Homo sapiens: one gene and its partners. The protein of the gene in region 3 purifies or fractionates together with the protein of the main gene of each other region. This does not show direct contact. Each region holds a gene or a part of one and is shown on either strand. Other genes may lie near its edges. The genes, in order: RAP1A, PPFIBP1, CPLX2, SNAP25 and DHX16.

The links.
Region 1: the proteins of CPLX2 (region 3) and RAP1A purify together in Homo sapiens (affinity purification with mass spectrometry; 2 studies listed by BioGRID and IntAct, with this or other methods). This does not show direct contact.
Region 2: the proteins of CPLX2 (region 3) and PPFIBP1 purify together in Homo sapiens (affinity purification with mass spectrometry; one large-scale study listed by BioGRID and IntAct). This does not show direct contact.
Region 4: the proteins of CPLX2 (region 3) and SNAP25 purify together in Homo sapiens (co-immunoprecipitation; one study listed by IntAct). This does not show direct contact.
Region 5: the proteins of CPLX2 (region 3) and DHX16 purify together in Homo sapiens (affinity purification with mass spectrometry; one large-scale study listed by BioGRID and IntAct). This does not show direct contact.

Annotation. Positions count from the first base shown.
Region 1 is NC_000001.11:111,699,789-111,703,288, reverse strand, and holds part of RAP1A (ras-related protein Rap-1A precursor), read right to left. Parts: intron 1-3,500. UniProt on the Homo sapiens protein: Counteracts the mitogenic function of Ras, at least partly because it can interact with Ras GAPs and RAF in a competitive manner. Together with ITGB1BP1, regulates KRIT1 localization to microtubules and membranes.
Region 2 is NC_000012.12:27,681,177-27,684,706, forward strand, and holds part of PPFIBP1 (liprin-beta-1), read left to right. Parts: intron 1-369; coding exon 370-520; intron 521-1,210; coding exon 1,211-1,322; intron 1,323-1,438; coding exon 1,439-1,527; intron 1,528-3,530. UniProt on the Homo sapiens protein: May regulate the disassembly of focal adhesions. Did not bind receptor-like tyrosine phosphatases type 2A.
Region 3 is NC_000005.10:175,870,306-175,874,377, forward strand, and holds the start of CPLX2 (complexin-2), read left to right. Parts: upstream 1-1,272; 5' UTR 1,273-1,400; exon of another isoform or gene 1,401-1,894; intron 1,895-2,461; exon of another isoform or gene 2,462-2,715; intron 2,716-4,072. UniProt on the Homo sapiens protein: Negatively regulates the formation of synaptic vesicle clustering at active zone to the presynaptic membrane in postmitotic neurons.
Region 4 is NC_000020.11:10,302,307-10,305,836, forward strand, and holds part of SNAP25 (synaptosomal-associated protein 25), read left to right. Parts: intron 1-3,530.
Region 5 is NC_000006.12:30,666,496-30,670,025, reverse strand, and holds part of DHX16 (pre-mRNA-splicing factor ATP-dependent RNA helicase DHX16), read left to right. Parts: intron 1-2,698; exon of another isoform or gene 2,699-2,841; intron 2,842-3,212; exon of another isoform or gene 3,213-3,530. UniProt on the Homo sapiens protein: Required for pre-mRNA splicing as a component of the spliceosome. Contributes to pre-mRNA splicing after spliceosome formation and prior to the first transesterification reaction.

The DNA of each region.
Region 1 (3,500 bases), on a different chromosome or scaffold from region 3:
GTATACTGCAACAATTTAAAACAGCATAATTACAAGTGAGTAACATTTTTTATTACTTGCTATCCTGACAGAAAACAAGACATAACACAAGTTTCTAGCAACTGAGGTGACTAGAAACAATGACAGTAAACTAGAATTAAAAAGGAATTCTTAACCACTTTAATTTGCTTTTGTGTGATTTAGAGCTGTATATAATTTTTTAGAAACAGATCTTTTGATCCTAAATAATTTTATTTGCAAATTTATGACACAACTACTGCCCAAGTGCTAACAATCTGAGGTATAAGCCCAATACTAAACTATGACTTCATCATCCAGAATCAATATCTCTACTGGCAGATTTTATCATCTTTCTTTTTCTATTCCCATGGCATAGCAATATTTTTATCATCTTGACAGTCAATAAACTCTTTATAAGAGCTTGTTAATGGTCAGGGGCAATGACTCACACCTGTAATACCAACACTTTGGAAGGCCAAGGCAGGTGTATCACCCCAGGTCAGGAGTTCAAGACTAGCCTGGCCAACACAGTGAAACCCTGCCTCTACTAAAAATACAACATTAGCCGGGCGTAGTGGTGCACACCTGTAGTCCCAGCTACTTGGTGGAAGAAGAATCACTTGAACCCGGGAGGTGGAGGTTGCAGTGAGCCAACATCGCACCACTGCACTCAAGCCTGGGCAACAAGAGTGAAACTCTGTCTCGGAAAAAAAAAAAAAAGAGCTTGTTCATGTATTTTCATTTTCCCCCTCATTCCAAACCTTTAGAAAAGATGTGAGAATAGTGCAATGACTATCTATCCCCTTTAGTTAAATTTACTAATGGTTAACATTTAGTTACTGAGCTTTAGTCATGCCAAATTAAAATTACTTAATTTTAAACTTCCTTTTATTTGGTGACAATCATTACTTTATGTTGTAACTATGGAGGTTAATATAAGACAAAATCTTCTTTTAGAAAAGTTTTGGTATTATATATATATATTACTTAAAAAGCACATATGGCAGAATATTAAAAATGTGTATGTCTTGGGTCTTTATATTAAATAACTATACAGTTTGGATCTTTTTACCTCTGGATGCATTAAACGTAAAAGATAAATCCACAAAGTTTCTTAAGCTTGTTGTGCCTTGGCTTCCTTGTTCCCCATGACCACTACCTCTATTTTGTCTACTACATCTAAAATAGTTCTGGTTGTTCTACCCTGGCTGATGTACTCTTTCTTGTATTCCAGGGAGTTAGCTATGCTACCACTCAGCCATTTCCCCAGCTTCAAATTCGTCTAAGGTGTGCCACAGGAACATGGCTGAGCTTCCTATACTGCTGCCAGTGTATTTTCTGGGAAAGATGTAAAAACTGGAAGTTTCCTGGATTTTTCATTGATAAAGTTTGCATATTCCAGAATTGCACCACTATGGTAACCAATTAAATTCTGCCACTGTCCAAATGTTTATATAATAAATGAGTTTACTTACAAATGTTAAGTGCTACAAATACTAGCAACACTATTTCTATGATGTTCTCTAGAGATCATGGTCTCTGCTTCTTATTAAATCAAAAGAATAAACATACAGGCAACCTGAGTTCTGAAAATCCAGTTTAAGAAAAGTCCTTACAGAACTGCTGTGGTTGGTGTTCCCTCCTATTGAGAATGCCAACCTCCTTCTTAAGGACATTCTACAAGTTTCATCCATTCACAACAAATATCCACTGACATAGTTGTAGCCCTATGGATATGTTAGTGATCATGAGAGGCAAAAATTTCTGCCCTGGAGGAGTATACATGGAGACAGACAAAAATCAAGTATGCAAGATGGTAATAAATGTTATAGAGAAAAGTAAAGGTTGGGAGTTTATTTTGAGGGTAGGAATATAAAGTTATATTTTAAAAGACTATGCTCAGGGAAGGCCTCACGGGTAACATTTGAGCAACCATGTGAGGGAGGTGAGGGAATAAGCTCTATGGTTATGTGGAGGAAGACTACCCCAAGCACAGGAAAGAGCAAATGCAAAGGCCCCAAAGGGAAACATGTCTAAAGTGTATGAGAAGCTGTAAGGAGGCTGGATTCATTGAAACATTGTTACCTAGTGGGTGAGTATAGCAGTGGGGGCCAGAGAAGGGACAAAGAGAGAGGATTCTCATTTGGACCTTTCAGGGAAATGTAATAAAGACCTGGGCTTTTACTCTGAGTTTAATGCATAATTTAAGCTGAGGAAAACATGATCTGACTTACATTTAAATGGAATTATGATGGTTACTGTGTGGAGAACAATCTGAAGGGGGTGAAGAAGAGAAGCAGGGAGATCAGTTTTGAGGTTATTGAAATAATCCAGCTGAGAGATGACAACTGTTTAGACCAAGATAGTGTCATTAGATTCTAGTGGTGGTAGCTGAGTTCTGGGTAAGTTTTTAAGGTAAAGCCAGTAGGGTTTTCTGAGAGTTTGGATGTACACATAATATAACAAAAAATACAGTCAAGGACGACTCCATGGTTTCAGGCATAACCAACTAAAAAGGTACTATTTACTGAGATGGGAAAGACTGGAAAGACCCAGGTCAGGGAAAGGTTATCAGGAGTTCAGTTTGGACATGTTATATTTGAGATGCTTATAAGACATACAAAAAGAGATATTGAAGAGGCAGTTAGATATAAGAGCTCGAAGTTCAGAAAAGAAATGAGAGATAGGGATATTGTTTGGATGTTTGTCACCTCCAAACCTTATGCTGAAATGTAATCCCCAGTGTTGGAGGTGAGGCCTGTGGGAGGTATTTGGGTCATGGAGGTGGATCCCTCATGAATAGCTTGGTGCTATCCTCACAATTATGAGTTCTCGTGAGATCTGGTTGTTTAAAAGTGTGTGGCATCTCCCGCTCACTCTTTGCTCTTGCCATGTAAAACACCTACTCCTCTTTGCCTTTCACTATGATTGTAAGCTTCCTGAGGTGTTCACCAGAAGCAGATGCTGGAGCTATGCTTGTATAGCCTGCAGAACCATGAGCCAATTAAACCTCTTTTCTTCATAAATTATCCAGCCTCAGGTATTTCTTTACAATAATGCAAACGGCCTAATACAGACAGGGTTACAAAGTTAGTATTTATCAGCATACAGATTGTATTTAAAACCAAGCAACTACAAGATCTCCAAAGCAGTGTTGTTAGGAAAGAGAAGTGCAAGTATTGAACCCTGAGGTCCTCCAACATTAAGAGGTAGGGGAGATAAAGAGGAATTAGGAAAGGAGACTTAGGAGTAACCAATGAGACAGAGGAAATCAGGCAAGTATTGTTTCTTGGAAGCCAAATGAATAAAGGTTTTACATTAGAAAGCAATGATAAACTGAGTCAAAGGCTGCTGAAAAGTCAAGGGAGTTGAGGATATATTCAAGAGAATTATAAATGATGGACCGTGGACCTGAAGCTATATGCAGAGGGGGTTGAAGATATAAGGGATAATAAAAAGATGTTAGGATAAATGGACTACAGGTTGTAACGAAGTTGAAG
Region 2 (3,530 bases), on a different chromosome or scaffold from region 3:
TTCAAATTAGACTTAAGTTTCTTTCAGTCCAACTGAGTTTCCTGTTTGGGAATCCAATCTTCAAACAACATTGGTTAAAACTGATACAGTGACTTGTGTTTGTCCAATTTGGTCTTTTTCTGTAGCACTTGTTCTTGCTCTATCACGTTAAATCTTTTGTGGTTTCATTTGAAATGAAGACAGTGGTCTTAGAAGATAACTTTCAACCAGTTGTTCCTCCAATGTATACTAAAAATTAAGCTTTTCATGGTCAAATGTGTATCACCAGGGAATTTCCATGTCTATTGAATGTATAGTTGTTTAAAACTAATGATAAGCCACAGGATTGGCTTTGGATTATTTTTCATGCAATTACTCATTTTCCTGTAGTGACTTGGATATGCCATTTGCCAAGTGGACCAAGGAGCAGGTTTGCAATTGGCTGATGGAACAGGGCTTGGGCTCGTACCTGAATTCTGGCAAGCACTGGATTGCATCTGGCCAAACGCTTTTGCAGGCTTCTCAACAAGATCTAGAGAAGGTGACTGCTTCTCTGTTTTGTTCACACAATGGATACTGAGAAGAAAACAGTATGAATGTAGGGTTGTTTTATAGTCCAGAAAGGGCCATGAGTGAAGCCAGTAAAAACTCTGTAAACAAAAGTTTGGGTTTTCAATTGCTTCATGCTTCTTTTTTCTGGTGGTCTTGGGAGGACCTGGTCTTGATGATTCCTTATGGAACACTTAAGCCATTGGGCATTTTAATGAAAAAGAATTACATAAGCATAATTCAGTTCATATTTCTCGAAATCATTGTTTGGCTTTATCATTGGCCTGTTTTTCTCAGTGTAAGATATGCAATTAACTTCACTTTGCAAAAGAAAAAAAAAAAGCACCCTACAATTTGTGTCTAATTATTTAACATTTCTTCCAAATTATTTAATATTTTGTACAAAATAAGAGTCAAATTCTTTTTATGCATGCTACAGTTCCTAGCTTACAAAGAAAATGAGTCACTAGGGAATGCCTAACACACCCCTAAGATAATTGTGGTGGTCTTGGCTTTTCAGGGACCTTTTGTTCAACAACACTTTACTAGCCCAAGTTGGGATTGTAATTCAGTATTGAATTGGGTCTTTAATGCTAGCTTCATTTTGGAGAAATTTGCATCCTTTGCCAGTGGCACCCAGCCTATACAGATAGAATTATAAAGTCAATGTTTATTGTTTCAGGAACTTGGAATCAAGCATTCACTTCATCGAAAGAAACTCCAGCTAGCACTCCAAGCCCTGGGATCTGAAGAAGAAACCAATCATGGGAAGCTGGATTTCAACTGGGTCACTAGTAAGAAGTTTTTATTCTAACAAAATGAAATAATTATATACATAGTTGCTTTTTCTTTTTAATCACAAGAACAGATGTTTTGTGGCATGGTAGCAACACTGGCCTCTCTCTTTTAGGATGGTTGGATGACATTGGCCTCCCTCAATATAAGACCCAGTTTGATGAAGGACGGGTTGATGGTCGAATGCTACATTACATGACTGTTGTAAGTGACTCACTCCTGGGGTTTGGGGGAGGAAAACTTTTTTTCTCTGAAAAACACAGGAATTGAGTAAGCCAAACACAGTGTTTTCAGTGATTCCACCAGAGTTTGAAGCTGTTGCTTGAACTTGAGGAGAGTGGCAGGCATATTTCCCATGAGGCTGAAGTTGTAGCATTTGGTGATTGTGATTGAACAGGCTTGGGATAATTTGAAACCCCAATGTAAGCTAAGTGAAGCCTAATTTAAACTAAGCTCTCCAGAAGGTTGATTTTATATGTAATACATTCAACAAAGTAAACACTGAAGTGTACACTTTGAATGGGTACATTTTATGGTATGCAAATTATATCTCATAAAGATTTTTTTTGTATTATTTCTTTTGAGATGGAGTCTCGCTCTGTCACCCAGGCTGGAGTGCAATGACGTGATCTCAGCTCACTGTAACCTCTACCTCCCAGGTTCAAGCCATTCTCCTGCCTCAGCCTCCCGAGTAGCTGGGATTACAGGCTCACGCCACCATACCCAGCTAATTTTTTTGTATTTTTAGTAGAGACGGAGTTTCGCCATGTTGGCCAGCTGGTCTCAAACTCCTGACCTCAAGCGACCTGCCTGCCTCGGCCTCCCAAAGTGCTGGAATTATAGGCATGAGTCAACACGCCCAGCCTAAAGATATTTTTTAAATAGAATGTAGAATTTTTAAGCCCAAGCTATCTCTAAGTTATGGGTTTCTATGTGCAATGACCATTTGGAAGAGGCCACCCTTTTGACCTGACATCTTCAAGGACTTGTCTTCTCCTTTCCACTCTGGACAACTGTTACCTGAAACCCTATCACCCGTCTCACTTCAGCCTAGTTCTGCTACAGCAGGAGTTACTGGGGTTAAAGGAGGAGGGAGGAAGGCTAGACTTCTACTCTGGTTCCTTCATTATTGTACATTTCTAGCCCTCCAGCCAATGTGTAGGACTATTCCCTGCTTTACAGCAGTGAGAAAGATGGATTCCAGGAGAACTTTGTTTTAGGTTCCATACCACTATTAATGTTCTACTTAAAATTCTCTTTATTTATTTATTTTTATTTTTATTTTTATTTTATTTTATTTTATTTTGAGACGGAGTCTCGCTCTGTCGCCCAGGCTGGAGTGCAGTGGTGCGATCTCGGCTCACTGCAACCTCCCTCTCCTGGGTTCATGCCATTCTCCTGCCTCAGCCTCCCAAGTAGCTGGGACTACAGGCACCTGCCACCATGCCTGGCTAATTTTTTGTATTTTTAATAGAGACGGGGTTTCACCATGTTAGCCAGGATGGTCTCGATCTCCTGACCTCGTTATCCACCCACCTTGGCCTCCCAAAGTGCTGGGATTACAGGCGTGAGCCACCGAGCCTGGCCTTGTTCTACTTAAAATTCTTTTATTTATTTATTTATTTTGGAGACAGAGTCTCACTCTGCTGCCCAGGCTGGAGCGCAGTGGCACAATCTTGGCTCATGGCAACCTCCACCTCCCAGGTTCAAGTGATTCTCCTGCCTCAGCCACCCGAGTAGCTGGGATTACAGGTGCACACCACTGCTCCTGGCTAATTTTTGTGTTTTTGGTGGAGATGGAGTTTCGCCATGTTGGCCAGGCTGGTCTGGAACTTCTGACCTCAGGAGATCCACCTGCCTCGGCCTCCCAAAGTGCTGGGATTACAGGCGTGAGCCACTGTGCCCGGCCTAAAATTCTTTTATTTAAACAGCTTTTTGTGAAGTAGGCTATAGACCTAACTACCCTAAGTATAATCTTTTTCAAGTAAGTAGCAAGTTTTAAACAGCCAACTTAAGTAGGCATTTCTCAATGTCAAAAAAATTTGGAGTTCAGTTCATGGATTTTTCTTCTCTGTCATTGAACCCAAGCCCCTTACCTTGATGAGCACATCACATAAACCTGCGTGAAATAATACTAATATGTGTAGTATGTTGCACATTTGCTATGTGTCAAACATCCTTTTAAGCATTTTGCTCATATTAATACT
Region 3 (4,072 bases):
CTGGTGGGGGGGTCTCCTGCTTTAAGGCCTCTGCTGTGATCGTGTGTGAAGGGATAAGTTCTCCCTCACTGGAACAAAATCACATTTCTGCAGCTCTTGTTGCCCCTTCCTTGGAAGGAAGCCATCCCCTTAGAAGGAGAAGCCATCTCCACTCTGACATACCTTGATGGATGTGAAACTCCTGCAGATCTTTCACAGGCCTTGTGCAAGGCCCCTCCTCTCCGAAGCCATTTTCCTACACATCGGGCTGGAGTAATTGGGAGCCGAAAGATGGCAGGCAGAATAAAAAGGCTCATTAGGTGAGAGTAATAAAACAAAACAAAACAAAACAAAAATGAGTGCAAGGGGAAGAGGAAAGGCTGGGGGTGGGAGCAGATGTTGTCCTGCCTCTTGGAAGTCCTTTTACTTTCTTGGGCATAGGAGGAAAAGAAATGGCCTTCTAGAATAAATTTTGCCAGAGGAGTCCTTATTCTTCACAGGATATCAGATCTCAAAGGGATTGGCGAGTGGCTTGCCTAAGGTCCACTGCAGTTTTGCATCAGTCTTCTCTTTCTGGGTGCGCAGTGGAGGTTCCTGACCCACTGCGAGGGTCTTGCCCACACGCTCCATCAGTGTTTCCTGAGTGCTCCTGTGGCTGGACACTGTGCTGGGGGGCTGCAAAGATGACCTGGCCAAGGTCCAGTCCTGGAGCTGCTCACAGGCAAGAGGCAAACCAACAGGTGGAACGGGGGTCGCTGAGGCAAGGGCTTGTCTGGGAGTGGCAGGAGCCGCAAGAAGTGCAACCACTCTGCCTGGAGAAACCAAGGAGGGCTTTCCCAAGGAGGTGAACTTTGAGCTTTGCTTTAAAGAACCCTTCCTCCACCCCTTGCCCCCACCACTCCTCAGGAGCAGCAAGCTTGTGGGCCTGGAGCTGTGGCCAGGATGTCTGGTTGCAGGGAGGCGGCAGGGGCGTCTGCGAGGGGGAGGAGAACAGTGTAAGGTGGAGGAGAGAGGGGAGGGGAGCGAGAAAAGAGGGGGAGGAATGGAGGGAGAAGGAGACGGGAGGGAGGGAGAGAGGGAGAGAAGGAGGGGACGAGGGGGGAGGGAGGGAGAGAAAGAGAGAGAGGAGAGAGAGAGAGAGAGAGAGACAGAGAGAGAGAGAGAGAGAGAGAGAGAGAGAGAGAGAGAGAGAGAGAGAGAGATTTGAATTTCCCATCTGGAAGGGGAGCGGTAGAACGTCAGGGCCCGGCTGAGGGGCGTGATTGGAGGGCGCCTTCGGCAGCCGCCCGCGGCAGAAGCCGCGGCTCCAGCTCGCCTGGCGGAATTGCACGCGGCGGCGGGAGCTGGAATAGCAGAAGGAACCACCTCGTGGAGTCGGGCCGGAGCCCTGCAGTGGCTCAGACGGTTGCAGGGACCGCCAGGTCGGTGCTGGCCGAGGGCCGGGAGGGCGGAGCTGGGCTGTGGGCAACAGGGTCCCGGCTCTCGCCTCGAGGCCTTGGGGCAGCTCGGGAAGCTGGGGAGCACGGCTTTCGGGGGGACAGCTCCCCAAGGCTGCCTGGGCACCGGATGGGGACTGAGAGGCGGTAAAGGGGACACTCCCGGGTGCGCTCTCCGTGGTGCTGAAAGGACAGCTCCTTGCGAGGGGCCGCGAGCAGGCAGCTAGCTGCGAACTAAGAGGAAGCGTGGGCCCTAGCCGGAGACTCCGGGCAGAGCCCGAACGGCCGGGGTCCCGGAGCCAGGACCGCCCCGGCTGCGGCGGAGACTCAAGTCTGAACCCAGAGAACAACTTTGAGCTCGCGGGAGTGGGGGACGTCGATCTAAGCTACTTCTGGCTGTGCTTAACCCGAAGCCCGCCGGAGCACGCTTCGCCCCGGAGGAGGGAGTCGCCCCCAGGGGTACAGTGCGCACTCCCGGAGTGAGTCAGAGGGCGGCGGCAGGGGGGCGGACAGACCGCAGGTGGAGGGGAGGAGAACGTAGACATTGACAGGGGATGGGGGACCAAGGGGACTATTTGTCCCTTTCCGGGAGGAGCCGCCGCTTGGACAGCGCACGCCCGCCGCCTGGAGTCTTCGGGAACGACCCCTTCTGTGCTCTCGTTCTCGTCGGCCTCAATCTGCCCCCTTCCCCAGCAAAGTTTGAAACCGGGCCGGGTCTTGGGGTTGGAGCTATGTGTGTTGGGGGAAGGGGCGCTCTCCGTGGCCCACCGGGAGATCCAGGACAGAGCTGCTGGGGGTGTGGGTCTCCGCGGGGGTCCGGGAGAGGGGCGCCGGGGTTCCTGTCCTCTCTTCTGGCCGGGAAACGGGAACCCCCGGCCACTTCCGCTTTTCAGCCGGAGTCGGCTCCCTACCTCCTCCCATCCTCCGCTGCCCCTCCCCTCCCCCATGCGTCTCCCATCCCGGGCCACGGGGTGGGGACGGGGCGGGGGGAGGGGGTGGAGTGACATCCCCTGTCTCTGCCACTGCCTTTGGCGTAGTCCCCTGCCAGAAGCAAATGAGTGTTGAATTGAGTTGCGGTGAATATAGCCCAGACTTGAATCATAAAAACAGAAAAACGGCCATAAGGACAACCACTGCAGGTTACCCGAGTCAGCCTGTCAGATGGCGGGGCCCAGTCCCGAAAACCTCTAGGGGCTCAGATGGTCGAGCCTGAGTCGGTGCTTGGGCTGGGACGGGCTCGGAGGGAGTCGGAGAGGGGAAGGAAGCTGAAGGCGCGCCCTGGGTCCCCGGCGCACTGAAGGTACGGAAACCTGGTGCTACGACGGCATCCCTCGCCGCCCCCGGCCTCCCCTCCCCCAGCGCAGCATCCCCCACCCACCCCCACTCCCACCCACCCCCACCCTCACCCCCCTTCCCGCGCAGGGATAGACCAAGGCTTCCCGCAGAATCGCTAAGGAGCGCCTCCTGGCGGCCTGGCCCAAATCCTCAACTGCCGGCAACCTGCTGGACCTCAGCACTCCCGCAGGCATATGGCAAAACATACACACACACACACCCTGCACACACGCACGCACTCACACGATGTCTAAGTCCAGAGTTGCACACACGGGGTCATACTTTCAACGCACACACCCTCATGCACTCGTTGACACGTTAAATTCAACCCGGCACACACGTCCTCAGGATCTACCATGTACCAGGACATGTAGCCAATTCTGGGGACAGGAGAAATGAAACAAGATACTGGTCCTGTCCTGAGAGGAGCTCAGAGTAACCAGGAAGGGCAAGACAAAGAAAGACAAACAGACAAAGAGAGCATGTACTGGAGGCAGGCAATACTGCCCCCAGAAAGTGCCACAGGTCTCCAAAGGGGAAGATGCCCTCACATCTTGCCAAGGAGATCCGTGAAATTGCATGGAGGGAGTGCTGTTTGAGAGAGATCTTCAGAAATCAATGCTGCTGATGATGATAATGATGACTGCGATGATGTTAGATAATATGTACCTACTTTGTGCCAACACTGGGCTGAGCACTTTATTTGCATCACCTCATTCAATGCTCACTACAAGCCTTGGGAATAGGTGTTGTTGTCTCCATTTCATAGATGAGAAAACATTGAGTCATTTGCTCAAGGTTACTTAGTAAGTGATGGAGCCAGGATTTGAACTGGCAGAGATGAGGGTAAGAGGTTCCAAGGCTGTGGGAATAGCATGCACAAATGCCCAGGCATTCTCAGAAAGATTATCTGTTGGGAAATAATACGTGCTAAGCAGAGCCCTGTGCAAGAGGTGGCACACGAGCAGCAAGGAAGACGGGTGCTAGACTGTGCAGGCCTTGAAGGTCAGCACAAGGACTCGTATCAGTTTAACAAGGCCATGGGGAGCCATTGCAGGGTGTGTATGCATGAGAAAATCTGCCCTTTAGGAAGATTAATTGGATGGCCACGTGGAGGCTGGATGAGAGCTGAGGGAGAGACAGTTAGAGGTTATGGATAAATCCAGAATCTCTAGGTCCTGAACCAAGGCATTAGCAGCAGTCACAGAGTGGAGGGTGGGGATGTAGGCAGCATTGCAAAGCTACAGCGTCTGGACTTCTCCCTGGAATTCTCCCTCGGCACCCCCATCCCAATCTTAACTCACCAATTCCTTGCATGATCT
Region 4 (3,530 bases), on a different chromosome or scaffold from region 3:
GATTCTTTAGCAGTCCTCACATTCTTCTATCAGTGAGAAAACACAGCATTTGAGAGCTAAGACTTTGAGTTCTAACAGGGTTTTGCCATTCACCAGCTCTGTGACCTGATTGCCTCACCTGAAGGATAGTAAGAGAACTGTTCAAACCTAGGATCAGAACAGGCTGGAAGTATGAACTGGGTTCTAAAAGTCACCTGGCATGGTCTGAAGTTGAAGAGATTCCCGGAGCGTTCAGAAGATGGGCTGAACAGCTCCTTCTAAACTTTTACTGGCTCTTTGGTGGTCATCCTGGCCTTCTCACAAGGACAAACATGTAACATATGTTGGGCACTCCAGCAAATTTAGAATTTTCTAAATAGAAATATAAAAATTGGAATGGGACAGCCATCATAAATAAAGTCCTACAGCATATAAGTAGGGTGATCATAGGGGCATTCTCCAAATACCAGGAAGACATCTACAAGGAGATTCCAGACTTTTTTTTTTTTTTAAAAGAAGCTAATTCTTTTATATAATAAAGGGGCAGTACTTTCTGTGTCAAATATTGCATGGGGTGGAATTTTCATATGCTTCAGAAGTAAGTTAGGTGGAAATCACAGATGCTCATTGAACATAAGTCTGTTTCAGCTCCTCCCAGATCCTTTAAGGATATACAGAGTAACCTCATGCTCTACTTCAAATATCCCCAGGTGAAGGCCCCTCAGTGCATTCTTGTACAGGAGATCCTAGAATGTTTGCGCTCAGGAATGCCATCATTTTAAAATGAATTATTTTTCTCATTTGAGCTTTTCAGAGCATTTAGTCTGGCAACATAATAATTCAATCTACAGGAACATTTCACATTGCTCTGATCCTGTAACTTTCCTTTGCACTGAAGTGTCATTATTTCTGATACCATTTGTAGCTGGAAAGGGAGGGCTTAAGAACCAAGTAAAATTGGTGAGATTATCCATTTTCCAATTGAGAAACCTGAGGTCAAAAATGTGAGTCTGTAGTTCAAAACAATCAAAATCAATGCCCTATCTTACTATGTAAATACTGATTTTAAAAGACAAGTGTCAATTATCCAAACAGATGACAGAGAACCATTGCCAGGTATTCAAAGTTATGATTAATCTGGAAATATGTTTGTTTTAACTTTGCAAATTTCTATTTGAACATGGATAATTCTAATGTCCTGAGAATTCACGATATGAACTGAATACAGAAGACTCAGCTCAATAAAAATTGGGAAGTACAGCACCACAATAGGTACAAAGCTGGTAATCATTGAGTGATACTGGTTGAGAGAAAAACAGTTTGGTTTCCCCACACTGCCTGGCAGCCTCCTCCTCTTCTTCCCAGGCTGTAGAAGGATAGACAGCATTACCAGTCAGGGAAGGACAAAAGAAAAGCCTCCATAGAATCGTTGTCTTCACCTCTGGTTGCTGATGCATTTTTCTCAGTGGTGATGGGAATCATTCATTTTCTGGAATTTAAAGATTTATGCTGGTAGCAGCCCTAGGTTTCATGCTGCATATACAGCAAACATAACCCAAGCAGTAAAGAGATCAACCAAGAGATTAAAGCCAGCCAGTTACAAAATCATAGTAAATGTGCATCTGTTAAAGAAAAGACAGTTATTAAACTCATAGAAATGAATCTTCAGAAATGCAACTTAAAAACTATTAAGCATCCCAGAAGCAAGCCAAGTTCTCATACGGTAACAATAATTGCAAGATAAACTAATGAGCCCTTCGTTTTGCAAAACATTATTCCAAGCACATTATGTGTATAAACTCATTTGATCTCAGCAAATTGAATAGTAAGTGATGAATAGTGTGGACTCTGACTCCAGGTTGCTAGCATTCAGACTCTGGTTTCTCCATTTATTAGTACTAAGACTTCAGACAAATTCCCCAGATCGTTTCTGACTGCTTTTCTCATTTGGAAAAGTGAGCTAATAATAGTACACACTTTATAGTTGATATTGTTAATCTTGATGTTGTCAAAGTTTAATGAGTGGAACAAAGTACAGTTGACCCTTGAACAACATGGAGATTTAGGGTGTCAACCCCCATGCAGCTGAAAATTTTTTGACTCCCCCAAAATTTAACTACTAGTAGCCTACTGTTGACTGGAAGCCTTAATGACATAAAAAGTCCATTAACATCTATGTTTTATGTATTATTTACTGTATTCGTATGATAAAGTAAGCTGGAGAAAAGAAAATGTTATTAAGAAAATCATAAGGAAGATAAAATACATTTATAATACTATGCTGTATTTATTGATACCATCAGTTTATATCATTTGTTTACAAGATGAATCATCAGTCTGAAATCTTCAGTACACATTAAGCAATTCAACTTTTTCTTGAAATGTCGTGACTTTTTTTTGCTTTTTGGGAGCACTGCTAGCATCACTGGTGGCACTTTGTATGGGTGCATGATGTTATTCAAGGTTTACAGTATTGCACTAAACATGATTTTTTTTAAATGTGAAACTGCAAGAGATCACTTTTTACTGCACTATGCAATTTACTGGAGAGATGGTGAGGATGATTAGTATCACAGAGCATTTTAAACGGATGCTCACAACACTTGAGTTCACCACAATAATAGGAGGTGGCTATGAAATTATTAGAGTAGTACAGTATGGACTACAGTTAATTTTATACAATTATGATTTAATACTTCACCTTTACATTTCTCTCAACTGCAAATAGGCCCATGTATGGTCTATATTTGTTTAAGTCTCATCAATTTTAACTTTTCATAGTAGATTTATATGTATTTTATGATAGTAAATAATAGACTAGACTAGTATCTACATATATTTTATCCATTCATGACATGCCTAATTTTTTCTAAATTTTCTCAATATTTCTAAGTAACACATTCATCTGCAAGTTTGTCTTAATTGTTGCAAATCTCCAAAGCATTTTCCAGTGTATTTATTGAAAAAAAATCCTGGCCAGGTACAATGGCACATGCCTGTAATCTCAGCATTTTGGGAGGCTGAGGAGGGAGGACTGCTTGAGCCCAGGAGTTTGAGACCAGCCTGGGCAACATAGTGAGATCTCATCTATACAAAAAATAGAAAAATTAGCCAGGCATGGTGGCATGCACCTGTGGTCTTAGCTATTTAGGAGGCTGAGATGGGAGGCTCAGTTGAGCCCAGGCAGTCAAGGGTGCAATGAGCTATGATCACACCGCTGTTCCCCAGCCTGGGCATCAGAGCAAGACCCTGTCTCAAAAAAAAGGAAGAAAGAAATTCACACAAAAGTGGATCCACACCATTCAAACCCATGATGTCCAAGGGTCCACTGTACATGCTCATGCTCATTAGCAATATTTTTTATCATCCAGGTTGGAGAAGAGAAAGCTGAGCCCCCAAGATGTAATTTGTTCAAAGGGACACTGCTAATAAATTAGCCATGGTTTCAATCCTACAGTATAAGAAGTGTAATTCAACTTGGTCCAACAGATGTGAATGCCTACCACAGAAGTCATTGAGTGTCTTTCTAGGATAGAAAGATAAATCATATA
Region 5 (3,530 bases), on a different chromosome or scaffold from region 3:
ATGTGCTGACCATTCAGCTTAGGCACACCATCTCCAAATACCTTCCCACCACCTAATTCCTGCACCCCTTATGTGGCTTTGTGATCTCCCTGTGTCTTCTCACTGGACAGGGACAGAGCCCTTGTAATTCATAAACTGGACTTTTTATGGTGTGAAACTAGGTAGGGTAAGCTGTTTTCCAAAGGCCTGGTCTTGTCAAGTAAAGTCACACTTAGATTCCCCAATACCCCAATAGAATTTTGAGACTCTTGAAGTTCCTTTTTTTTTTTTTTTTTTTTTTTAAACCTTTTTTCTTTTTTTTGAAACGGGGTCTTGCCCTGTCACCGAGGCTGGAGTGCAATGATGCGATCTCGGCTCACTGCAACCTCCGCCTCCTGAGTAGCTGGGATTACAGGCGCACACCACCACGCCTGGCTAATTTTTTGTACCTTTAGTAGAGACGGGGTTTCACCATGTTGGCCAGGGTGGTCTCGAACCCCTGACCTTGTGATCCACCTGCTTTGGCCTCCCAGAGAGCTGGAATTACAGGCGTGAGCCACCATGCCCAGCCTTCTTTTTATTTGTTTTGTTTTATTTTTTATTTTTATTTATTTATTTTTGAGATGGAGTCTCACTCTGTTGCCAGGCTGGAGTGTGGTGGTGCGATCTCAGCTCACTACAACCTGTGCCTCCCTGGTGGAGGAATCAAGCGATTCTCCTGCCTCAGCCTCCTGAGTAGCTGGGACTACAGGCCTGCAGTACCACACTCGGCTAATTTTTTGTATTTTTAGTAGAGGAGATTTCATCATGTTGGCCAGGATGGTCTTGATCTCTTGACCTTGTGATCTGCCCGCCTTGGCCTCCCAAAGTGTTGGGATTATAGGCATGAGCCACTACGCCTGGCCGTTTTTACTTTTTAAAATTCATTTATTTATTTTTTTGAAACAGAGTTTTGCACTTGTTGCTCAGGCTGAAGTGCAGTGGCGTGATCTTGGCTCACTGCAACTTCCACCTCCCGAGTTCAAGCGATTCTCCTGCCTCAGCCTCCAGAGTAGCTGGGATTACAGGCATGAGCCACCTCGCCTGGCTAATTTTGTATTTTTAGTAGAGATGGGGTTTCTCCATGTTGGTCAGGCTGGTCTTGAACTCCTGACCTCAGGTGATCCACCTGCCTCGGCCTCCCAAAGTGCTGGGATTATAGGCGTGAGTCACCACGTGCCCGGCCAACTTTTGGAGTTCTAAGAATGGCCTACTGGTTCCCAGGTCTCTCCTGACCAATTTATCTCATATCTCTTCCTGAAATTGACTGTGGTTAGGCTTCTGGGACATCTCAGTGCAGTTGTGGTGGTAGTGGTGTTACTGTTTTGGCCTGAATTTAATTTTTCGGGTTTTTTTTGAGACAGAATCTCATTCTGTCGCCCAGGCTGGAGTGCAGTGGCATGATCTCGGCTCACTGCAACCTCCGCCTCCCGGGTTCAAGTGATTCTCCTGCCTCAACCTCCCGAGCAGCTGGGACTACAGACATGCACTAGCATGCCTGGCTGATTTTTGTATGTTTAGTAGAGATAGGGTTTCACCATGTTGGCCAGTCTGATCTCAAACTCCTGACCTTTGGCGATCCACCCCCCTCGGTCTCCCAAAATGTTAAGATTACAGGCGTGAGCCACTGTGCCCAGCTGTAATTTTTCTTTTTCGATTACAAAAATATTTAAGCACATAGGGAAGTTGAAAGAATAGAACAAAGAACACTCATAGACACTATTCAGATTGAAAAATGGTTAATACTATGGGTAGTATTTGCATTGTAATTGTAAATGTGGTATGTTTTTTCTTTTCAGACCATTTAAAAGAGTCTTAGACATCATGGCGTTTTATCTCTAAGTACATCAGTGTGTACCTGCTAAGGATAAAGATATTGTCCTCTAAAATCAGAATGCTCTTGTCACAGTCAGGAAGTTGAACAGTAATTCTTATGTATCGACTAAGATCTCTCTACAATAAAAGATACCCTCATTACCCTCAAAATAACTTTAATGACTGCTTTTTCCTAACAAGAATGCAGTCAAGGTTCATGCATTGCATTTGGGTCTTAGATGTTAAGTTTGTTTCTCTCTCTGTCTGTCTCACCTTGCAGTGTCCTACATTCTGGATTTGCCTGATTCTTATCTTGTGGTGTTAAGTACTTCTCTGCCCTGTGCTTTCTTTGAAGCAGGAATTGGGTCTAAAGCTTATTGACACTCAGATTAAACAGTTGTGGCAGGAACACTTCTTGGGCGGTGATGTGCACTTCATATTATGTCATATCACGGGGACATACTATCCAGTTGTGTATCTATATATTAGTATTAATATCCTTTCTACCAATAGCCTTTCATCAAATGCTTTTAGAAGCCACTGGTAATCCTTTCCTGAACATGTTATTTTTATTGGGGATTGCAAAATGGTGATTTTTTTTTTTTTTTTTTGAGACAGAGTCTCGCTCTGTCGCCCAGGCTGGAGTGCAACGGTGCGATCTCGGCTCACTGCAAGCTCTGCCTTCCGGGTTCATGCCATTCTCCTGCCTCAGCCTCCTGAGCAGCTAGAACTACAGGCGCCTGCTGCCACGCCCGGCTAATTTTTTGTATTTTTAGTAGAGATGGGGTCTCACCATGTTAGCCAGGATGGTCTCGATCTCCTGACTTCGTGATCCTCTTGCCTCAGCCTCCCAAAGTGCTGGGATTACAGGCGTGAGCCACCGCGCCCGGCCGAAATGGTGATTTTTTGATTCTGTCATTCCTGTTACGTGTATTGGCTAGAATTTGTCTATAAAGAAGAGCTTTTCCTCAACAACTAGGAACAAGCTACAGTTCCTTCTTAAAAAGGGTAAATGTTTGTTTCCTTTTAAATACGAATTTTTAGAGTAAGGCGTTTGCTGTAACAGTCATTTCACTGGTGACAGATTTTTTTCCCTTGTTTTTTGTTTGTGTGTGTCAAATTGGACTCATGAATTTTTATTTTTCAGTATTTTATAATCTCACATCATTATTCTTTTTAATGCTCAAATGGCTCTGATTTTTTGCCCATATTAAAAAAAAAATCTATCTGGCTCTTCCATGGAAGGAATATTTGACTGTGGTACCCAGATTAGGTCATGATCATAAACTGCATTTTAAGTCTTTACAGAACAAACAAGAAAAGCCAAACAACTAAATAGAACCAGGCCCCTTAAGGGTAGAACAGCAGAGGGGCTTTTTTTTTAAAGATGCAGTTTTGTTCTTGTTGCTCAGGCTGGAGTGCAATGGCGTGAGCTAAGCTCACTGCAACCTCCGTCTCCCGGGTTCAAATGATTCTCCTGCCTCAGCCTCCCGAGTAGCTGGGATTACAGGTGCCCACTACCATGCCCAGCTAATTTTTGTATTTTCAGTAGAGACGGGATTTCACCATGTTGGCCAGGCTGGTCTCTAACTCCTGACCTTAGGTGATCCACCCACCTCAGCCTTTCAAAGTGCTGGGATTACAGGTGTGAGTCACCACGCCCACCCAGCCACCAGAGGGGCTTTGACCTTGCAGTA